2 linked regions of the Homo sapiens genome follow. The protein of the gene in region 2 purifies or fractionates together with the protein of the main gene of each other region. This does not show direct contact. Each region holds a gene or a part of one and is shown on either strand. Other genes may lie near its edges. The genes, in order: RAP1GDS1 and SEPTIN6.

Region 1 (12,097 bases), on a different chromosome or scaffold from region 2:
TGTATCAGCTAAGCACATTATATACATGATCTCACTGAATCTTCACAATACTTTCAGGTAAATATTATCCCAGTTGTTAGGACCTACAATGCTGGGTTTCTGAAAAAGACACTCTGAAGTTTTCTAGTGAACAGTTTCCTCTGGAACTTACTTTTGATTTACTGTGTCGTATAAGGGCAGACAGCAGTCTGTTTGACTCCCCCATCACACCAGCATGATCTTTGGCTTCACACCATTCCACCAAACGCTCCACTAACTTAACATTCTTTCCCAATTGTTCAGCAGCTTCTGCTATAGGAAAGAAGGCAAACCAAGGAATGAATCACTAACAGACAATCAGTTGAAATAATTCGTACAGATTTGAGAGTGTGAAGGACGTCTAAAAAAACACAGCACGACAATTTCATTAAAGCTAGAACTGCAAATATTCCTTATGTGATGGGCTATTTGCCTTCTTCTGTAACACTGTGAAATTTTATAGAAAATACAACAACAAATGACTTCATACTCTTTTGGTTAAGCCTGCTAGTCTGTTAGTGCTCTGGCGGACTATAATGCAGGGTTCTTAGAAAGACTCTATGCAATCAATATAGAAAAGGGTTTAAAATTTAGAAATAAGTAAATAAACATAATTCATTCCTAGGAGTGGTTCTGACTGCTGTTTCTGCAAACAGAAAAATGCTCTCCCTGTCTGGAAGACAAATTTAAAAAATTTTTGACTGTCACAATAATGAAATTTGATTTCAAAGCCAAGGTAAAAATGGGTATAGAATGCCAAAACACAACACCCCCTGCCGAAACTGATGAATAAAGCAACCTAAAACCAGGACTATAAGTACTAATAAGGAGAGATATGGTATAATTTCTATTTAAAGTCAATTATAGGCTGGACATGGTGGCTCACACCTGTAATCCCAGCACTTTGGGAGGCTGAAGTGGGTGGATCGCTTGAGGCCAGGAGTTCAAGAGCAGCCTGAGCAACAAGCCCCATGTCTAGTGAAATTCCAAAACAATTAGCCAGGAGTTGTGGAGCATGCCTGTAATCCTAGCTACTCAGGAGGCTGAGGCAGGAAAATTGCTTGAACCCAGGAGGCGGAAGTTGCGGTGAGCTGAGGTCGCACCACTGCACTCCAGCCTGGGTGACAGAACAAGACTCTGTCTCAAAAATAAATAAATAAACAAATAAATAAATAAATAAATAAATAAATAATATGTATAAATAAATAATTATAACAAGCATAAAAATTAACAAATGGAGTTCCAAAACCAACTTTTAAATCTTTTATTTGCTATTTTTTATGATTACATAATCCTAAAAGCTAAAAACAAGTCCTTTTTCAACTAGAGGCACATTAAGACTATCATATGAAAAATGCAAGTTGGGGAAAACATTTCTTTTACCTTGTGCATCTATTAACATTCTTAATGTTCCCAGAAGTTTGAACTGAACAGGAGGCATTTCAGATTTAAGAAATTTCAAAACTGCCTCTGTGACCCCAGCTGATAACATCTTTGCTTTATTTATAACTGGAGAAAAAGAGAGACTATGGTTAAAATGGTATTAGCATTCCTGTTGATAAACATTCAATTCAATACAGGTTTATTAAGTATCTTTAAGATCCATGTTTTATTTTTCCATTTAGAAACAATCTTGTCACTTTTTTGTCAATTTTAAGAATGGAATTCAGTTGTTTATGTGTGTGTCCGTATCCTATTTGTGTATAAGCGGATAACAGACAATATAATAATTTTTATGACAGTATCATGGCTTTTTAGATCCAATCCAAAACACTTACTTACATAGTTTGTAAAGGAAATCTGAAAATGTTACCCTCTTACAACAAAAAGCACAATTCCGTTTTTGATCCAACTGTGTTAATATAAATGTTATAGACATTAATAAATGTTACTATCCTATGTAAACCAAATGAATTCAAATGGATTGGATCATCATGTAATTGTACTATTTCATCTAATCAGAAATTTATTTTTAGAAAGTAGGATAAAAGAATAGTTTTAACTATCTTTTGTTGTATTTTCCATAATACAGTGATTTCATGACTTCCAAAGGCACATTAAGGCTATTTTAAAAAAATTGTACATCTGCTTATAGAAAAACAACAACTGAAAGTCATTCTTGAGTGGACTCTGTTAATTGATGTCATTATTCTACCTCAACTAAAGATGCCTAAGGCCTGGTGCAGTAGCTCTCACCTGTAATCCCAGCACTTTAGGAGGCAAAGGTGGGTGGACTGCTTGAGCCCAGGAGTTCAAGACCAGCCTAGGCAACATAGTGAGATCCTGTTTCTACAAAAAAAAAAAATCAGCTGGGCATGGTGGCACATGCCTGTAGTCCCTGTTCCTCAGGAGGCTGAGGTGGGAGGATAACTTGAGCTCAGAAGGTAGAGGCTGTGGTGAGCCAGGACTGCGTCACTGCACTCTAGCCTGGCTGACAGAGTGAGACCCCATCTCAAACTTAAAAAAGCTTAACTATAAAACATGATGAAAATCTAACAGTTCGCAAAAGGTAACAGGATATCTGAATGAAGGCAAAGATTATTCTTGTACAGTCTCACAAAACTTATTTAACATATGATCTCCATTTATTAGCATGAAAAAATGTGAACAATGTGAAGACTATTTTTTTTTAAATTTTCTTCATCAGAGCAGGTTCACAAATCACATACAGTTAATAGCTTCCCCAAATGATGGATTTTATTTTGTACACAGCTGCCTTCTATTCTTAAGTCTTACCTGGAATGGCCAGGTTTCTGAGGGCACTTAGTGCTGCATGCTGTACTGTTACATTTCCATCTTCTACATGTCTGTCCAGTAAATCCATAAGTTTTTCTACAATCCCATTGTCTACCATATGAATACAATTTGCATCTGAAAAAAAAAACACACATCTTTTTCTTCCTCTTTAAAATATCTATAAATACTTTATAATACTGATGTCTGGCTATTATCTACATTAGGGAAAATGGAGCTATACAATAAAATGAATTCCAAATCTTTCTCCCATCAGATTTATAGGTTTTTCTGTTTACTGAGTGAGAAGTGTTAAAAAAAATTCTTAAACTAGATAAAAGTTTTAAAATCAGAAAATTACCAGAAAAATCTTTAGTTTAGAGCCAGATAATATATCAGAAGTAGAAACACATGGTTAGAATGTCCAATATTTTTCATTTATTGTGATGTATGCTTGTGTTCTCCCAATGTTACAGTGATAGTACTCTACCTTTTGCTATCATGGCTGATACCTAAATTATTTTTCAAACACTTACAAAGCGGAGAGAATATTATAATGAACCACTATTTACCCCATATCTAGTTTCAATAATTATCCATATTATGCCACTCTTACCTCCATAATTAGGAAGTCACTCCCAAAAAGAAGGAGTAAAAATGGAGCAAGTAAGCCATTATGATATAATATATACCAACAGTTTGTACTGGAAGATGATTAAACTAAAAAGAAAAATAAACTGTATTTCCTAGACACGGTATATTTCATGAGGAACGTAAGAATGAGTTTCTAGACTGTATTTGAGTTTTTTGGTAGTGCCAGATTTCATAAACATAGAAGTCTGGCGCCCCCTGAAACATTATTAAACTAAATTAAACATTCTACACGATGCCAGGGGATTATTCATACTTAAGTTTTATGGGCATAAAAGTATATAAGTTGAGGCACAATAATCCTAGAATGAATACTCAGATAATTAGATCCAAAATAAAATCACTAGGCAAAAGAAAGCAGATGTATACTAGAATGGGATTCAAACTTACTAAGCTCTGAAGTGCCAAGTATTCAAAAGAAGCACTTCATGATATTTAAACTATTAGAATTTAGTTGAATTGCATAAAATATGTAATTTGTTAGGAATGTCACTAAGTATTTCAGATTTCTGAAAAATTAAGTTAGCAGCATATACACATATTACACAACTTCTAAACTGTTCCAGTTTTAGTATATGTGGTAGCAAAGCAAAAATAAACAAATATAGAGTATTTGACTAACAAAGGAGGAACTAATATGCTTACCATTTCTGGCAAAATTTGCAATTGCCAATGCTCCAGCAAGCTGTAGCTGGTGGTTATTTGATGGGATCCAAGAGAGTACCCTTTGAAATACACTACCTTTTCCTCCTTCAAATAACTTCTGCATGGATTCATCTGGAGGTAAATGAAACGAATAGTTAAGCAAGAGAAAAATAACTAGGAGTAACAAATTCACATTCTTAGGTGAATATCCAACTGGAAACTCACACCTCACAAACTGTTACATTCATAATGGGAAAAGTAATGATTCTTTTTATAATAAACATTTAATAGATACTAGACAATAGAGTCTAGCATTTTTTCTAGTCCAAGTCCCAGGGAGCCATCTAGCTTTTCTTTAGTCCCTTGGTGCCAAAGCTATCTCTTCTATGTGACAGCTCTTCAAATACTGGAAGATAGTGAAGACACTTCTTTTTCAGGTTCATTATGTCTGGTTGTATCAATGGCATGTTTAAGATGTCAAAATCATCACCTCAATAGCAGGTGAGATAGGAATATGAGAAAATGTCTAGGGTAGTATTTACAGAAGAGACAATAAATTTTAAAAACATCTGACAACCACATTCTTTGGCTGGCATAAATTACAACTCACCTCCAAGAAGTAATAAAACCATGAGATCTGAACCAGTTTTGAGCTCAGTAATATCATCTTCTTTGTCACTATCCACTTTTTGCTGAACAATCTCTAGTAGACACTCTACTAGGCCTGCTTCAACCAGCTGTAGTTTAATAGCATCTAAAGAACAACGTGAACAAAATAATCAAACTTTGAGATAAAATAGGAGCTCTGGTATAAGCAGTCCATTATAAAGAATTATAAGAAACTAAGAGGGCCAGGTGCGGTGGCTCACGCCTGTAATCCCAGCACTTTGGGAGGCCGAGATGGGCGGATCACAAGGTCAGGAGATCGAGACCATCCTGGCTAACACCATGAAACCCCGTCTCTACTAAAAAATACAAAAAAAAATTAGCCAGGTGCAGTGGCAGGCGCCTGTAGTCACAGCTACTCAGGAGGCTGAGGCAGGAGAATGGCGTGAACCTGGGAGGCGGAACTTGCAGTGAGCCAAGATTGCAACACTGCACTCCAGCCTGGGCAATAGAGCGAGACTCTGTCTCAAAAAAAAAAAAAAAAAAAAAAAAAAAAAACTAAGAAAATGCATGATTTAGATAATACATTTTTGAAACTCAAATCTTCAAAGTAAACTATCTTGACAGTTCATTTAAATATACAAAAAAGCTTTATTTCATATTTCCATTTGAAATTGCCAAATTTTTCAGGATGTCTTGCAGCATCTAAACAAATTGATACTCAGCTCTGAAAGCAACTAGTATCACTCCACTATTACTCTAGATATCATGCTCATGTTTAAAGGGCAAGCTATAAAATACTATAAAATAGGGCTGGGCATGGTGGCTTACACTTGTAATCCCAGTGCTTTGGGAGGCCAAGGCAGGAAGATTGCTTGAGGCCAGGAGTTCAAGGTTACAGTAAGCTATGACTGTGCCACTGCACTCCAGTCTGGGCAACAGAGTGAGACCCTGTCTATAAAAATTAAATAAATAAATAAATAAAGTCGTGTTTTTAAAAAGGGCTTCAGGTTTTCATTGATTTAAAGCTTTCTTGAGTGATGGGTACATGGTGGTTTACTAAATGCTATTTCTGAATACATTTCAAAATGTTCATAATAAAAGTTAAAAGAAAAAAATAACCTTGAACCTTTCTGATGGCTAAACATAACATAAGGTATTTTAGAGACAGAATTTACATCCCAATTACATTTTTAAAACTGATCTTCATAGGAAACTCCACCCCCACATCAACACTTTTTATTATACTTCTAATATCTTTAAGTATTCTTTCATTATAACACTTATTTCACTGAAGAGCTTATATTTGCCTCCATATCTGTCTCCATCTATCTCCTGAGCAGATATATGTTGTGGGAAGTCAGGGACCCCAAATGGTGGGACTGGCTGGCACCGTGGCAGAAAAACATAAATTGTGAAGATTTCATGGACATTTATCAGTTCCCAAATAATACTCATAATTTCTTATGCCTGTCTTTACTTTAATCTCTTAATCCTGTTATCTTTGTAAGCTGAGAATGTACATCACCTCAGGATCACTATTGTACAAACTGATTGTAGAACATGTGTGCTTGAAAAATATGAAGTCTGATTGTAAAACATGGGTGTTTGAACAATATGAAATCAGTGCACCTTGAAAACAAACAGAATAACAGTGATTTTACAGAACAAGAGAAGACAACCAAAGGTCTGACTGCCTGCAGGGTCAGGCAGAATAGAGCCATATTCTTCTTCTTGCAGAGAGCCTATAAACGGATGTGCAAGTAGGAGAGATATCACTGAATTCTTTTCTCAGCAAGGAATATTAATAATACCCTGGGGAATACAAAATCAATGTACAAAAATCACAAGCATTCTTATACACCAACAACAGACAAACAGAGAGCCAAATCATGAGTGAATTCCTATTCACAATTGCTTCAAAGAGAATAAAATACCTAGGAATCCAACTTACAAGGGATGTGAAGGACCTCTTCAAGGAGAACTACAAACCACTGCTCAAGGAAATAAAAGAGGATACAAACAAATGGAAGAACATTCCATGCTCATGGGTAGGAAGAATCAATATCGTGAAAATGGCCATACTACCCAAGGTAATTTACAGATTCAATGCCATCCCCATAAAGCTACCAATGACTTTCTTCACAGAATTGGAAAAAACTACTTTAAAGTTCATATGGAACCAAGAAAGAGCCCGCATCGCCAAGTCAATCCTAAGCCAAAAGAACAAAGCTGGAGGCATCACACTACCTGACTTCAAACTATACTACAAGGCTACAGTAACCAAAACAGCATGGTACTGGTACCAAAACAGAGATATAGATCATTGGAACAGAACAGAGCCCTCAGAAATAATGCCGCATATCTACAACTATCTGATCTTTGACAAACCTGAGAAAAACAAGCAATGGGGAAAGGATTCCCTACTTAATAAATGGTGCTGGGAAAACTGGCTAGCCATATGTAGAAAGCTGAAACTGGATCCCTTCCTTACACCTTAGACAAAAATCAATTCAAGATGGATTAAAGATTTAAATGTTAGACCTAAAACCATAAAAACCCTAGAAGAAAACCTAGGCATTACCATTCAGGACATAGGCATGGGCAAGGACTTCATGTCCAAAACACCAAAAGCAATGGCAACAAAAGACAAAATTGACAAATGGGATCTAATTAAACTAAAGAGCTTCTGCACAGCAAAAGAAACTACCATCAGAGTGAACAGGCAACCTACAAAATGGGAGAAAATTTTCGCAACCTACTCATCTGACAAAGGGCTAATATCCAGAATCTACAATGAACTCAAACAAATTTACAAGAAAAAAACAACCCCATCAAAAAGTGGGCGAAGGACATGAACACACACTTCTCAAAAGAAGACATTTATGCAGCCAAAAAACACATGAAAAAATGCTCATCATCACTGGCCATCAGAGAAATGCAAATCAAAACCACATGAGATACCATCTCACACCAGTTAGAATGGCAATCATTAAAAAGTCAGGAAACAACAGGTGCTGGAGAGGATGTGGAGAAATAGGAACACTTTTACACTGTTGGTGGGACTGTAAACTAGTTCCACCATTGTGGAAGTCAGTGTGGCGATTCCTCAGGGATCTAGAACTAGAAATTCCATTTGACCCAGCCATCCCATTACTGGGTATATACCCAAATGACTATAAATCATGCTGCTATAAAGACACATGCACATGTATGTTTATTGCGGCATTATTCACAATAGCAAAGACTTGGAACCAACCCAAATGTCCAACAATGATAGACTGGATTAAGAAAATGTGGCACATATACACCATGGAATACTATGCAGCCATAAAAAATGATGAGTTCATGTCCTTTGTAGTGACATGGATGAAATTGGAAATCATCATTCTCAGTAAACTATCGCAAGAACAAAAACCAAACACTGCATATTCTCACTCATAGGTGGGAATTGAACGATGAGATCACATGGACACTGGAAGGGGAATATCACACTCTGGGGACTGTGGTGGGGTGGGGGGAGCGGGGAGGGATAGCATTGGGAGATATACCTAATGCTAGATGACGAGTTAGTGGGTGCAGCGCACCAGCATGGCACATGTATACATATGTAACTAACCTGCACAATGTGTACATGTACCCTAAAACTTAAAGTATAATAAAAAAAAAAATAGTAATACCCTGGGGAAGGAATTGCATTCCTGGGGGGAGGTCTATAAATGGCCGCTCTGGGAGTATCTGTCTTATGCGGTTGAGATAAGGACTGAAATACGCCCTGGTCTCCTGCAGTACCCTCAGGCTTATTAGGGTGCGGAAAAGATCCCGCCCTGGTAAGTTTGAGGTCAGACCGGTTCTCTGCTCTCGAACGCTGTTTTCTGTTGTTTAAGGTGTTTATCAAGATAATACGTGCACAGCCAAACATAGACCCTCATCAGTAATTCTAATTTTGCCCTTTGCCTTGTGATCTTTGCTTTGCCCTTGCCTTGTGATCTTTATTGCCCTGTAAAGCACGTGATCTTTGTGACCTACTCCCTGTACACTCCCTCCCCTTTTGAAATCCCTAATAAAAACTTCCTGGTTTTGTGGCTCAGGGGACATCACGGACCTACCGATATGTGATGTCACCCCTGGAGGCCCAGCTGTAGAATTCCTCTTTTTGTACTCTTTCTCTATTTCTCAGATGGGCCGACATTTAGGGAAAATAGAACATACATTGAAATATTGGGGGCTGGTTCCCCCAATAGATACACCTTACTCATCTTTGTATCTTAACCTAAACTGGCCTATCTAAATGCTTTGAGTGTAGTTGATACTCCTTAAGATAAATGCTAGTCAACTCACCTGAAAAATACATTTGCAACACAGATTTTTTGTTTAAGAGACAGTGTCTCGCTCCGTTGCCCAGGCTGGAGCGCAGTGGTATGATCATAGCTCACTGCATCCTTGAACTCCTGGGCTCAAGCAATCCTCCTATCTCAGCCTCCTGAGTAGCTGGGACTAAAAGTGCATGCCACCATGCCTGGCTAATTTTTAAACTTTTTTTGTAGAGACAGGGTCTCACTATGTTGCCTAGGCTGGTCTTGAACTCATGGCCTCAAGCAATCTTCCTGCCTTGGCCTCCCAAAGTGCTAGGATTACAGGCATGAGCCACTGTACCTGGCCAGAAATTTTTAAATTTAAACTTTATTTTTTCAGTTGGATTTTATTTTAGTCATTGGTTTCCCTAAGCTGTATATGCATCCATATATGGCAATGGCAGCTTCAGCTTATCATTTAGGAAAAATAAAGACTTTTAAAAATAAATACTTAAGACTTTCAGGCAATTTTAATGTGTTAAAATTTGGCTTTTTTGAATCACTAGGATCACTGATCTTCTTTTGAATATTATCTCAGAATACACAGAGTATTCAACCTGGAATATTTCTTTAAAAGGTACACTTGTACTGTGCCATGCTAAAAGTAGGGCGTTTCCTTGGTTACAGAATGCTAGGGCTAGAGATGTGTGGTGACTAGAATTAAAAACTATGATGAAAAAGCCTTAAAAATACTAAAATCCTTGAACTATACAAATCCCAACTTCTAATGCTGAAATCACTCTCCTTCGTGTACTGGGAAAATGAAGGATGATACATGCAAAGAATTAGTCCAAAAACAAGCCTTCAATGGTATCATCCTATCCATTGTGCAATTATAAAACAGATGTGAAGGCAGAGGGGAAAACAGTAATAAATATCAACACATTGTTATTTTGAAATACTGCAAGGAAAGTTATAGGTTATTTTATGGCCTAAAATTGACTGAAGGTCACAGTAAAATTTTTACTTTGCCAAAACACCAATGAGATAAAAAACAAATTTCTCCCTAAGAAATAGGACCTAAGACATTTAAGAAATTTTAAATGTGTCAATATTGTAGTTTTAAAATTTTAATTAATTTTTTTTTTTGAGACAGGGTCTTGCTGTGTTGCCCAGGTTGGTCTTGAACTCCTGGCTCAAGCAATCCTTCTGCCTTGGCCTCTGAAAGTGCTGGAATTACAGGCGTAAGCCATCACTCCCAGCCTAAATGTCTCAATGTTAAAGTTTACAGATAATCTCTTCTCACAATTTGACTGAAATCAAATACCTGAAAACAAATATATAGGAGGCTTAAACTACCTTAATTAGGATTAGCAAGACATTCTGCCAAAGCAGACAGCCCAGCACATTTACCAAAACCATTCTGTCCAAGGACAAGTATCTTTATCACCACTGTTTACACACATATGTATGAATGTACACTTGTATGTATCATGTATGCATCATATATAGGTATTTTAAAACTTTTTTTAAAGAGTGAAAGAAAACCACAAATGCAGAGAAGTGCATAAAATATCCAAGTTAAGTTTAATATATTATTAGAAAGCAAATAACCATGTATCTATCACCTAGATCAAGAAATTCATTGCCAACAACTCAGGAAGCCTATCTCTGCATTTCTGTTTCTGATAACAAACCCCTTCCTTCATTTGTCTCAAATCATCCTGGTTATTATGGTAATCACTTCTATACTTTCATCATTTTACCAAGTAAATAATCATTCCTAAAAACTACAGTTTAGTTTTACTTTTTGTTTTTAACTTTATATAAATTGAATCATACAATATGTATTTTTCAGTGTTGGCTTTTTCCTTTCAACATTATGAGATTCATCCACAGTAATGGTTACAGCTGTCTTCATTCCTTTTCATAACTCTATATTTTTCCATTATATTAATATCCTATGATTTATTCATTCTACTGTTAATGGATTTTGGTTGTTTCCAATTTTTCATTATAAATAATGCTGCTTTGAACATTCCTGTAACAGTTCCTGGTATACATGTGCACAAGCTTCTGGGTATATTTCTAAGAGCAGAATTGTTGGATCTATTGCTTCAACTTCAATAGATACTACTTCCCAATTGTACCAATTTACACTCCCACTGTTCCACACCCTCATCAACAGTTGGTTTATGAGACTTTCCAGTGGGTGTATAGTGGTATTTTATTGTGGTTTTATTTTGTGTTACCTAAGAGTGAACATTTTCATATCTATATTAAGTCTGTTGGACTTAATATAAATCTTTTGTCAAGTGCTTATTAAAATGTTTTTCACATTTTTCTTAATGATTTTTAAGAGTTTTTATACACTGTATACACAAGCCCTCTGTCAGTTATATGTTATAATTATATTCTCTCATCCAGTCTTGCTTTTCACTCTTAACGGTGTCTTTAAAAAAAGAGTTTTAACTTTTATTTATTTGTTTTTGGTAGAGATGAGGCCTCACTATGTTGCTCAGGCTGGTCTCGAACTCCTGGTCTCAAGTGATCCTCGTCTTGCCCTCCCAAAGCCATTAGGATTGCAGTCATGAGCCACCAGGCTAGCCAGAAGTTTTACTTTTAAAGTAACCAATGTCTCAATTTTTTCCTTTATGATTAGAGCTTTTTGTGATCTAAGAAAAGTATTTCAAGGCCATGATGATATTCTCCTAGCTTACATTTTAAGATAAACCCTCTGAAGTTTTAACTTTCACATTTAGGTCAATCTATCTGGAATTAATTTTTTATATACTTTTTAATAGTCTAGAAGCCTTTTATCTTGAAAACACCTATTATGCCATGAATTCATAGGGAAGAGGTTCCAGCAGCTCAGGCCCCTTCCGTTTGTTCTCACAAAGTGCGCTTCTCTAGGTGGAACAGACTGTTGCTTCAGTTGAACTCAGGTACATTTCTCTTTGGCTCCCTTCTTTTTCTTTTCCTATCTTTCCTTCATGTGTTTCGGGGAGGTATCTTGGCTCTTGAGTGCTTAATATGCTCATTATACACATTAATTATTTTGGCAACAATCTTGCCCTTGTTTGTTTACAACAACACTAGTACCATGCCGGGTAACACCATAGACTCTTGGTTTTCCATGGTAAAATTTG
Region 2 (12,097 bases):
CCTCAGCCTCCGGAGTAGCTGGGACTACAGGTGTGCACCACCACGCCCAGGTAATTTTTGTATTTTTAGTAGAGACGGGGTTTCACCTTGTTGGCCAGGCTGGTCTTGAACTCCTGACCTCAAATGATCCGGCCACCTCGGCCTCCCAAAGTGCTGGGATTACAGGAGTGAGCCACCATGCCCAGCCACTGGTGACTTTTAGAATCCTTATTTCTTTTGTATCTGTTACCCAGTGTCCAATACACCTAAATTAACTGAGGAGTTTGGGAAAGAAGGGACATAGAACCTGGTCAATGTGTTTTTCTTGCTAACTGGGATTTAAGCAGCAAACTTTTTGTCTCAATCCCTGTAGCTAAGAAAGCTTCAAAAATGTATTTGTGGCCAGGCACGATGGCTCACGCCTGTAATCCCAGCACTTTGGGAGGCCGAGGCGGGTGGATCATGAGGTCAGGAGTTTAAGACCAGCCTTGCCAACATGGTGAAACCCCGTCTCTACTAAAAATACAAAAATTGGCTGGGCGCGGTGGCAGATGCCTGTAGTCCCAGCCACTCGGGAGGCTGAGTTAGGAGAATCACCTGAACCCGGGAGGCAGAGGTTGCATTGAGCCGAGATCACGCCACTGCACTCCAGGCTGGGCGACAGAGTAAGACTCTGTCTCAAAAAAAAAAAAAAAATGTATTTGTATAGTTCCTACTTTAGGAAATCCTGTCTGGCAAACACTATGCACCCTTGCTTTGATGAATCTTATAAGATGTCAAGGTCATCATTATGAGTATCAGTCCGCATTGTTCAGAGTTAAATACGCAAAGGTAGGAAGGACAGAAGGACACAACATTGAACTGAATGTACACTGACCCCAGCACAGCCCCTGGAAGTTTCTCCCCTCCTCTCTCACTAAATCTCTGATATCTTATCTCTTTCCTCTTTCTCCTTAAGGTGGCCTGATTAATTGAGGGCCTGATTACTTTGATTGCAGTTAATTGAATGTTCCTTGACTACAATGTGCACGAGAGGAGATGGAACCGGCAACTTGGCCCAGCATGTCTGACAGTAAATCTCAAGTTTTCATCTTTAGTAGCAGGTGGTGCCATATTACCATACTGAAGGCCTGAACTGAGATGCTGGAATGGCCAAAGTCACCATTTTAAATTGCACTTCTCTCATAACCCTGCAACCTCCTCTCAGAATCTGTACAAAGATCTATTACAAGGAAATTTATTACAGCACAGTTTATAATGCTGAAAAAAAAAACCCAACCTAAATGTCCAACAATAGGAAAATATTTAACCAAATTATGGTACACGCATATTCTGGAATATTCTACATCCATTAAGAAGCATGTGGGTAGTTCTGTATGTACTGATGTGAGTATCTCCAAGACATATTATAAAACAGAAAACAGAAGTTATAGGGCGACTGTAATAAAATAGAAGAAAATGGAAGTTATTACATGACTGTAATCCCAGCATTTTGGGAGGTCGAGGCAGGTGGCTCGCTTGAGCCCAGGAGTTTGAGACCAACCTGGGCAACACAGCAGAATCCCGTCTCTACAAAAAATACAAAAATTAGCCAAGTGTGTTAGCACACACCTGTAGTCCCAGCTACCCAGGAGGCTGATGTGGGAGGATTGCTTGAGCCCGGTAGGTCGAGGATGTAGTGGGCCAAGATTGTGCCACTGCACTCCAGCCTGGGCAACAGTGAGACCCTGTCTCAAAAAAAAGAAAGAAAAAAAAAAGAAAATAGAAGTTGTAAACTATAAGCACAATATGAGCCCATATATGCCCCAGAAGCCCTGTAGATGTGTATTTGCACGTAAATGTATGTGGATGCATAGAAAGAAGACTGAAAATACAGCCACCAAACCCACAATCGTAGCTACCTCAGGGGAGGGGGATGGAAATAGGGGCTCAGTCAAGGGAGTAGTCGGTATGCTTCCCTATTGTTTGACTCTTTTATAGCACGAATGTATTCGCATGTTACCCATGTAATTTTAAAACATTTTTAATATAAGAAAGAAGAGTTCTCACTCAGCTTTGCAGCAGGGGTAATTAGGATGCAGAGAGTCTGAGAGGAGCTAAAAGGAAGGCAAAATGAAAGAGTGCTCCTGAGAACTGGGAGAGCGCCCCACTCCCCTCCCCAATTACATTTCCTGTTTTCTCCTCATCTGCAGTCACCTGTGGTTTTTAAATACGTTATACCACATTTCATATCACAGGCAGAAACACTGCTCTCTTTCTCTTCTGCCTCCTCTCCTGAGGACACACCAATTTCGTTTTTTAATTGAATATTCGTAAGGTTCATATTATCAAGAACAAGTTATGGTGGTTCCAGCTGCGCATCTTTCTCTCATTGCTGTTACTGAAAATAAAGAGTCCCTTAAGCACCCGAGTAGGCCACCTCTGTCCCCCACTCCCCTTGGCCCCTCTTCCAACCTCTGTGATAGTAAGCAAGCCGTATTTGAGGCCTCTGGGAACTGAGGGTGCATCTGTGTCAATGGAGAATTTCCCGCCTCTGTTTCAAACCAGGGTGGCTAAATTAGTAGCTGTCATTCTAAAGAATAAAAGCAAAAAGTTTGAAACTCATTGCTGATGACTAGGCTGTCCCTAAACTTTCTCCTCTGGCCATTCCCATCCAAATACTAGGAAAGCGGCCAGGTACGGTGGCTCATGCCTGTAATCCCAGCACTTTGGGAGGCCAAGGCGGGCAGATTACTTGGGGCCAGGAATTCGAAACCAGCCTGGCCAACACTGGGAAAACCCGTCTCTACTGAAAATACAAAAATTAGCCAGGCTTGGTGGCTCATGCCTGTAGTCCCAGCCAGTTGGGAGGCTGAGGCAGGAGAATCGCTTGAACGCAGGAGGCGGAGGTTGCAATGAGCTGAGATCGCACAACTGCACTCCAGTCTGGGCAACAGAGGGAGACTCTGTCTCAAAACAAACAAACAAACAACAACAACAAAAATGCTAGGAAAGAAAAGAAACACTGAAACCGGACTCTCTTCAGTCACCTACTGGTGGGCCCAAGCTCTCACACCTCCCTTTTCTCCATTTCCACTCTCAGCCCTGAACACTGATGTCTGAAAGACCGTGCAAATCTCCAAGACTATGAATCATCGGTTCAGTGATACATGATGGAATATTAAGCAGCTGAGAAAAATGTTTTCTAAGAATATTTAATGACAAAAGGAAATGCTCACCAAAGGCAAACAACAACAGGAAAACCAACCTGTATACACAGGGTCATCCCAATGATGGGGGAAAATACACATTTTTTAAAAGATTAGAAGAACACATGCCAAAATAATGTCAGTGATTTCTTTTGGGTAGAGAGGTTGTAGGTGATGTTGCTTTTCTGGGTTTTCCAAATGTTCTACAATAGGCATATTTTACTTTTATAAACAGGGAAAATGTTACTTTTTTAAAAAAGATTCTATGATGATACTTTCCTGGGTAGGAAAGTGGCCTCAGGTATTTTAGAAAAATATTGAACTACAACCAAAAAGGTGCCTGACAATTTGGGTCATCAGAGCATTTAGCTTTCAGGCAGTTTTATTGTATATAAAACATTTATTTTACCAGAAATACAATAAAACCCTATTAGTCTCCTTATTATAACTTCTTTTTTTTTTTTTTTTTGAGACAGTGTCTCACTCTGTCAACCAGGCTGGAGTGCAGTGGCGCGATCTCAGCTCACTGCAACCTCTCCCTCCTGGTTTCAAGCGATTCTCCTGCCTCAGCTTCCTGAGTAGCTGGGATTACAGGTGTGTACCACCACACCCAGCTAATTTTTGTATTTTTAGTTTAGTAGAGATGGGGTTTCACCATGTTGGCCAGGCTGGTCTAGAACTCCTGACTTCAGGTGATCCACTCGCCTCGGCCTCCCAAAGTTCTGGGAATATAGGCGTGAGCCACTGTGCCCAGCCCCCTTATTATAACTTATTATTACATATTATATATATAACTTATTGTCATACAGTATAATTTCTTATTATAATGATTCATGTGAACCAGAAGTCAAATCATATATCCTGAAACATGTAGCAAAAAGTCTTGATGAAACAATCAGGTAGCTGATAGCTTCCTCTGCTGCCTCCAATGCTGCCAAGGATGCCGCTGTATTATGTCATAAGAACCACAAAAGCACTGATAAGTTCCCAGAGGTTTTTTTTTTTTTTTTTTTTTTCTGAGATGGAGTCTCACTCTGTCTCTCTCAGGCTGGAGTGCGGTGGCACGATCTCAGCTCATTGCAACCTCCGTCTCCAGGGTTCAAGTGATTCTCCTACCTCAGCCTCCCGAGTAGCTGGGATTACAGGCGCCCACCACCACATCCAGCTAATGTTTGTATTTTTAGAAGAGACGGGGTTTTGCCATATTGGCCAGGCTGGTCTCGAACTCCTAACCTCAGGTGATCCGCCCGCCTCAGTCTCCTAAAGTGCTGGGATTACAGGTGTGAGCCCCCGCACACAGCCAAGTTCCCACAGGTTTTAAAAACAATTCTCAAATGCATCCAACACATCAAATATCAGAATGTCCCTCATGCTAATTAAGCCAGGCTAAGAGGAAACTGAGTAGTAGCAATGCCCTATCCTGGGAAAGAGAAATGTGGGGGCTGTTCTAAGGAGAAATAAGGCCTGCAAAAGCTGGCAGCACCCCCAAGGGGCCTCAGAAATGCCCTTCAGTTGGGGAGCAGTTGTGCTGAAGAAGCACAAGACAGACTATCCTTACCAGACAGAGGAGGAGGCCCATTTTTGGCAAATCCAATAGATGAAACTGATTTTAATACACAAGATAAATTCCAGAGTGGCTTTTCATTCTATAAAAGGATTCACAGCAGGATTCCATTAAGTAGCCGGCTCTTCTACTGCATTGAAAGCAGGATTCAATAGACAAACATTCAGCTGTCATGTACCTTTATAGGAAGACAATAGCTATCTACACCTACATGGACAGGCAATATCTGAAGGGTTGTTTCTGTTCCACTTACCGAGAGCCTGCTGAGCTAAAAGCATAGATCGACCTTCCCTACGACTCTCTCCCCACCCAGCTCAAGGGGTCAAAGCAGGGAAGGGGTGGGGTTCAATTCTGCCACCTCATTCGGAAGCAGACGCAGGCAAGGACCTAAAAGAAATGAGGCTGGAGAAAAAGGAAACATAAGCACCATACAATGTTAGAGCTGGAAACGCCCTTAAAGATCACCTAATCCAGCCCTTTCGTTTCACAAAAGGGGAAACAGAGACTCACAGAGAGGAAGTGACTTGGCTCACGTCACAGACTGATTTAGTGACAGAGAATAGTGCTAGGATCCAGGCCCCTGTCGAGCCAACGGCCACTCTCAAATGGAAAAGCTGACTCAAGTGGCACATGTGTTTCTTTAGACTGGTAAAATTCCGGGACATTGAGCTTCTGGCTTGATGCTGGTCAGGGGCAGAAGGGTCAAGGAACCGAATCTGGAAACCCGTGAGCTCCCCAAGGTGGTTCTGGCCCACAGAAGGCAACTGAAGCAGTCAATGCGGTGGAAGGCACTCATTGTGTGTTCCTGCTCTCTACTCACTTCCCCACTTTTTCCTCCTGTTTCCCTCTCTTTTGACTGCGGCCTAAGTCTCAGCCTGGCCAGCTGCCCAGTTCTGCTGAAGAACCCCAAGACTAACACAAGCCTAAGTCTAGGTCAAATATCCCCACCTCAGGCCAGGGGTGACCCTTGCTCAGGGTGAGTGAAACTTTCCCACAAAAGCCAGCCAGATTCCCTGGAAGCCAGACAATTGAAAGAGAGTTTTCTAGGTGTTCTGGCTATTGTTACCTCCAATCTGCTAAAAAAGAAAAGGTTTACCCACAGGCCTCTGGGTGAATGCCCAACTGCCCTCTGGGGAGCCTGAATTTGCCTCTGCCTCCATCTGGTCTTGTTTAATGGGGATCTGAAAAAAACCCAGTTCCTGCCTCAGCGCCAGTGTTCAGAGCTGGGGGCCTCCAATGTGAAAGGAAACCGAACACGACCTCACACCTCATCAGGGCCAGGAAAACAGAGTTCTGCCCCGTTACCCCAGGGCCTTCATTCCGGGTCAGAGAGGGCCATGGCAGGGGAAACCTGAGCCCTGAGGCCTCTCGCTGAGAAGGCCTGCAGATCTTTTCCCTGGTCACCTTTAAGTGAGTGGAAGGGCCGGCTGAGAGCGCGCTGCATAATTCAGCAGATGGCTGCCTCTAATGAGAAGACACTGAAGAAGAGGATAACATTATTTCTCACCCTCCTGAGCATGTGGCCTCCTTCCTCTGTGCAGGCGGCAGAGAAACCCACGGTTTCAAATCCCAGCAGCAGAAGCCTCCTCCTGCCAAACTGAGGAGGAAGGGTCTGTGTTTCTAATTTATTCTGCGCCCCCCACTCCAGTTGTTACTTAAAATAATCCATCATTACATGGCTGGTGGCTCCAAGATTTTTATTTAAAGCAATATGGAGAAGAAAAAATAAAAAAGAAAACCCACACAACCCGTGACTGTGCTATATTGGATTTAAGCTGAGAATCTTTTTAATATCAGAGAGTCTCCGAATCACCCTAGTATACTCTTCCCTGGGCCCTATGGGAGTGCTGAGGGAGTGTAGTGAAAAGAGGGGGAAGAGAGGTCATGGCAGGATTTTGATGTCTTAGAAACATCATGAAAAGACAAGTGTTTTTAAACAAGGAATCTGTGTCATCTGGTGGGTGTTTAATCGTATCACCCACTGACCAGCAATAGCACTTCGGACTAAGTAACTTGGTCTCCCTACACCCATTAAATAAAGGGAACAGTAATACTTGTCCAGGAAGCCATTGGGGAAAATGAAATCATACAGATGGAAGCATTTCGAGATCGTTGAAAGAAACATGTTATATATATCCATGGCTTTCCTTCTTTCCTTCTTTTTCCTTCTTTCCTTCTTTCTTTCTTTCATCTGTCTTTTTTTTTTTTTCTTTTTTGAGACGGAGTCTCACTCTGTCGCCCAGGATGGAGTGCAGTGGCACAATCTCGGCTCACTGCAAGCTCCGCCTCCCGGGTTCACGCCATTCTCCTGTTTCAGCCTCCAGAGTAGCTGGGACTACAGGCACCCGCCACCACGCCCGGCTAATTTTTTAATTTTTAGTAGAGATGGGGTTTCACCGTGTTAGCCAGAATGGTCTGGATCTCCTAACCTCATGATCTGCCCGCCTCGGCCTCCCAAAGTGCTGGGATTACAGACGTGAGCCACCGCACCTGGCCTCATCTGTCTTGAATGTAGTTTTAATGTACATGCAACTAAAAGCCCTTCTCAATTGTTCATGCTAATATTAAACCATGGCTCTGATCATCCAAAAACCCAGGCAAGTCCAGAAATCAGCCCTACTTAGTTTGGGAATACCTTTTTCCAGAGGACTTATCTTCCTAATTGGCTTTGCTCAGGCTAATGCAATAGGTTTGCTCCCTTATAGCACACAAAGGCAGTGGCCATGCTTGGTAACAAAGCCAGCAATTAATAGAAAATTTACAGCAGAGACTCCACAAAGTAAATGCTATGCACATGACTGCAGATCAAAATCTCATTAGATGATACAGACAAATCACTCTGCTATAATGTAGTTTTGTATTAAGAACACCGCTAACACTCACATTTCCAGGATTTAGGATGTAAAAAGGAAACAGGGCTTATTCCTGCCTTTCATCTGGAAGCTGTGAGAGGGCAGAGTTCCTGCGTGCCTTGGCCACCACTATATCCTCAGCACCTGGCACGGGGCCTGGCCGATCAGTGCCCAGTGAATATGTGCTGAAGGAATGAATGAAAATAAAAGTGGGTGAATTGGCAAATGAAATGTTCCCAACCCAGTAGCAGATGTGAGATCTCACCCACCTTCACACCTACCCATTTCCTATTTGAAGCCCTCAGGAAGCCCTTCCTGTCACCCTCTGCCTCCATTCATTGCTGAGTTAGGTTCCCTTAGTAATGAAATCTCATGGCAGGCAGTCACTCTCCTGTGTAGCACTTATCACAAAGATAATTAGATAGTGATTTGTGTCTGCCTCCACCAGTTCCTTGAAAGAAGGGACCATGTGCATTTGGGGGACATTGTCATTCTGCCCGCTTTTTATTTTGAAAAATCCCAGGCCGGGCGCTGTGGCTCACACCTGTAATCCCAGGACTTTGAGAGGCCAAGGTGGGCAGATCACGAGGTCAGGAGTTCGAGACCAGCCTGGCCAACATGGTGAAACCCTGTTTCTACTAAAAATACAAAAATTAGCTGGGCACGGTGGTGCACACCTGTAATCCCAGCTACTCGGGAGGCTGAGGCAGGATAATTTCTTGAACCCAGGAGGCGGAGGTTGCAGTGAGCTGAGATCGCGCCACTGCATTCCAGCCTGGGCGACAGAACAAGACTCCATCTCGGGGAAAAAAAAAAAAAAAAGGAAAAGAAGAAAAGAAACATCCCAAACACACAGAGAAGTTAGAAAATAATGTAATGACTGTCCAAAAACCCCTCAAATTTAGAATCAACATTTTTAAATATTTAGGGCCATGTAAACTTTCTTCCGTGTTGTATCACCAATAGAGCTAGGTAATAGGGTTTTGTTTTCTATGTTTGAGGTACGATACTACCTTTAGTGGGTGGTGGTAGGAACGCCTGAAGCAGAGACCTCAAAGGGAATCAAAGGGTAACTGCCACGTGATGATAGCAAAACCAGAGTGCAGCAGCAATCTTTTCCCCACCTGAAGACAGTTGCTCTGAGACAGTTGACCCAGACCAACCCCAGCTAACTTTGTAGGGCAAAGTTAGCCCCTGAAAGTTCACTTGGGAGAATGACCACTACCTAGATTGCCACTAGAGAAAGCTTCATTGTTCACATTGTGGGACTAGTTCAAGCCAGAATCATCCAGATGCTCTTGGTATGGGCCGGCATTTACGGTCTGGATCCCAGAATGCAACATTGAAAGGAACAGCTCATTAAAAGAGCCAGCACATGCAGCTTTTGGGGCTTGCCCTGTGCCTTGGTTACCTTGGACAAGTCATGGAACCTCTCGAAATATATATTAATAGCAGCCCAAGCCACCTCATAGTCAGGGGGTGAGGTGGGGCATCACAAGGATCTTCTATAGTTCTTTAATTATTTCACAGTGTCCACAATTTGTCATTCCAACTAGACTATAAGCTTAAAAGCCACGAACTTTTTTTTGTTTTGTTTTTTGAGACGGATTCCCACTCTGTCGCCCAGGCTGGAGTGTAGTGGCACGATCTCGGCTCACTGCAAGTGCCGCCTCCCAGGTTCACACCCTCAGCCTCCACAGTAGCTGGGACTACAGGTGCCCGCCACCACGCCTGGCTAATTTTTTGTATTTTTAGTAGAGATGAGATTTAACCATGTTAGCCAGGCTGGTCTCGATCTCCTGACTTTGTGATCCACCCACCTCGGCCTCTTTTTTTTCTTTTTTGAGATGGAGTCTCGCTCTGTTGCCCAGGCTGGAGTGCAGTGGTGCAATCTTGGCTCACTGCAACCTCTGCCTCCAGGGTTCAAGCGATTCTTCTGCCTCAGCCTCCTGAGTAGCTGTGATTACAGGCACGCACCACCACGCCTGGCTAATTTTTGTATTTTTAGTAGATACGGGGTTTCACCATGTTGGCCAGGCTGGTCTCGAACTCCTGACCTCATGATCTGCCCACCTCAGCCTCCCAAAGTGCTGGGATTACAGGCATGAGCCACCAAGCCCAGTCCGATCACGAACGTTTTTTAAAGCCTGCTACCTTTTTTTGTCCAGTTGACAAGGGCTAACCATAGTGCTGGCCACATATCAGTCAATCAAGTAAATATGGACACAGTGGAGAAATGGTGTTGTCACACCAAACCGTTTGTGGTGTTCATTCAAATGGGACGGACTTGTATTATGTGCACCAGAATTGAACTTCCAAGTTGGCTGCGTGCAATGTAAGCCCTACCCAACAACTTGAAGGCTTGTTTTAGTCACTAAGGATGTTTACCCACAGTGACTCTCAACTGATTCTAGAAAGAACACACCCCCCACATACATACACATACACACACACACACACACACACACACACACACACACACACTAGGGCACTTACTCGCATGGTACCACGTCTCAGAGCTCATTAAAAAGAATTCCTGGCCGGGAGCAGTGGCTCATGCCTGTAATCCCAACACTTTGGGAGGCTGAGGCGGGTGGATCACAAGGTCAGGAGTTCGAGACCAGCCTGGCCAACATGGTGAAAACCCCCCTCTACTAAAAATATCAAAACTAGCCAGGTGTGGTGGCGGGTGCCTGTAATCCCAGCTACTCGGGAGGCTGAGGCAGGAGAATCGCTTGAACCTGGGAGGCTGAGGTTGCAGTGAGCCGAGATCATGCCACTTGCACTCCAGCCTGGGCAACAGAGCAAGACTCCGTCTCAAAAAAAAAAAAAAAAAAAAAAAAGAATTCCTAAGCTAGCCACACTTAGGTTTATTCTCTAGTCTTCTGTTCCCAAACCCTGAATACATGTTCCTTGGAGGAAACAAGCAGCAACCAGATGTCCAAGGTCTCCTGAGTTAACTCCGTCTTCCCTGGTGAATTACAACTTATTGCAGACACAAAGGAGAACAGAGAGACAAATGACACATAAACAGGAGCTTCACTGGCTGGGGGAGGGGGGCATGGAGAGTGACGTCAGTTTTCCCAGAAACCCATTTATCACGATAACAAGGTCTCGAGTGCTTAGGCTGCTCTTTCAGCTTCAGAATCTGGCGTACAATTATGTTCTTCATCATACAGTATGGCAAGGCCAGCCAGAGCAAACTGGAGCCATGCAAAGCAAACCAAGTGGCCCTAAAGCACCCCCTCACCCCCATCTGCAGAACAAAGGGCATCTCTAGGTTGCCTGAGTTGTGCCTGAGGTGAAACACACACAACCTTCTGGAATGTTCCCCATTGCAACATCTGCCCTGCAATCCTAATCCAGGCAAGAGAAACTGGTGAGAGTATGGAGGACAGGTCGATGCAAATTCATTAGCTGACATGAAAAATCATTAGCGTCATTTTTGGATGGAGCTAGTGTAATCCCAGAGATTAATTCCTCTACTTCAGCTATACCATCTCTGAAATGCAGGTAACCAGGAGCAGAAAAGCCACAGCAGAAAAGAGGGAGCCCTCAAAACACTAAAGCAATAAACAACGAGAGTGCCAATCTTGGGGGAAGAAAATTCTCTCAAATTGCATCATCACAGAGAATGTCCCCTGTCTACTCCTGGTCCTTCCACAACATGACTGCATAAAGTGCTCTGTGCTAGGGTGTGCAGGGGGTGGAGGAGGTTCCGAAGAAATGATCCTGCCCTTCCAAACAGGGACAAAAGAGACATTAATACATATTCTGTAGAGAAAATATTATCAGATTCTGGCTTCAGATTTTGTAAAATCAATTTCAATTACACCAAATACCTAGAGGCTTTTTTTTTGTACTGTAGTTGCATTGCATGAACTATTTTCCTAAATAAGTAAGCTACAAGGTTGAAAAACATTTTTATGTGGTTCAGAGATTTTCGTCAAGTAGTATGTGGTGTCATGGGATTTGACCTACCTCTGTCTCCCACTCCTTCCTCACCTCGGGGTGCTGGTGGGCTTATTAAAGTCCCAGATACCCATGGATGAATAGAATAGCTAGGGTGTCCCCCCCAAATGGAATTCATCGCCCTTTGCAACCAAACTTCTGGTTTAAAAAACAAACATGGAGCCTCAGGTCACTTCAACATGGTTTCTCTGCACATCCCAGGCTGGAAAACTTCAGTTCTTTAAATGAAGATTTTTTTTTTCCCAGAGTCGGTCGCCAACAAAAAAAGAGACGGCACCGCTTTTGCGAGTCTCACACTTATTTTCCTGAGTCTCCATAGAAAGAAGCCAGCTCCACAGGTTTTGGCACACAAGCCCAGTTACACTGAACATGCACCCGAGACAGATCCTCAGAGGCCCGCTCCAAAACATGCCAAAATACGCAGCCAGCCACCTACAGGCCAGCCAACTGCACCCCACACTGACGCACAAATGAGACCCAGAGGCACACAGCACAAGCAGACAGAGAGGCGTTCGGACACACACCACAGAGGTGAGCACACT

Evidence for each region.
Region 1: the proteins of SEPTIN6 (region 2) and RAP1GDS1 purify together in Homo sapiens (affinity purification with mass spectrometry; 3 studies listed by BioGRID and IntAct, with this or other methods). This does not show direct contact.

The regions. Positions count from the first base shown.
Region 1 is NC_000004.12:98,409,449-98,421,545, reverse strand, and holds part of RAP1GDS1 (rap1 GTPase-GDP dissociation stimulator 1), read right to left. Parts: intron 4,802-12,097; coding exon 4,658-4,801; intron 4,180-4,657; coding exon 4,048-4,179; intron 2,890-4,047; coding exon 2,755-2,889; intron 1,528-2,754; coding exon 1,402-1,527; intron 292-1,401; coding exon 152-291; intron 1-151. UniProt on the Homo sapiens protein: Acts as a GEF (guanine nucleotide exchange factor) for the Rho family of small GTP-binding proteins (G proteins) that stimulates the dissociation of GDP to enable subsequent binding of GTP.
Region 2 is NC_000023.11:119,680,322-119,692,418, forward strand, and holds part of SEPTIN6 (septin-6), read right to left. Parts: intron 1-12,097. UniProt on the Homo sapiens protein: Filament-forming cytoskeletal GTPase. Required for normal organization of the actin cytoskeleton. Involved in cytokinesis. May play a role in HCV RNA replication.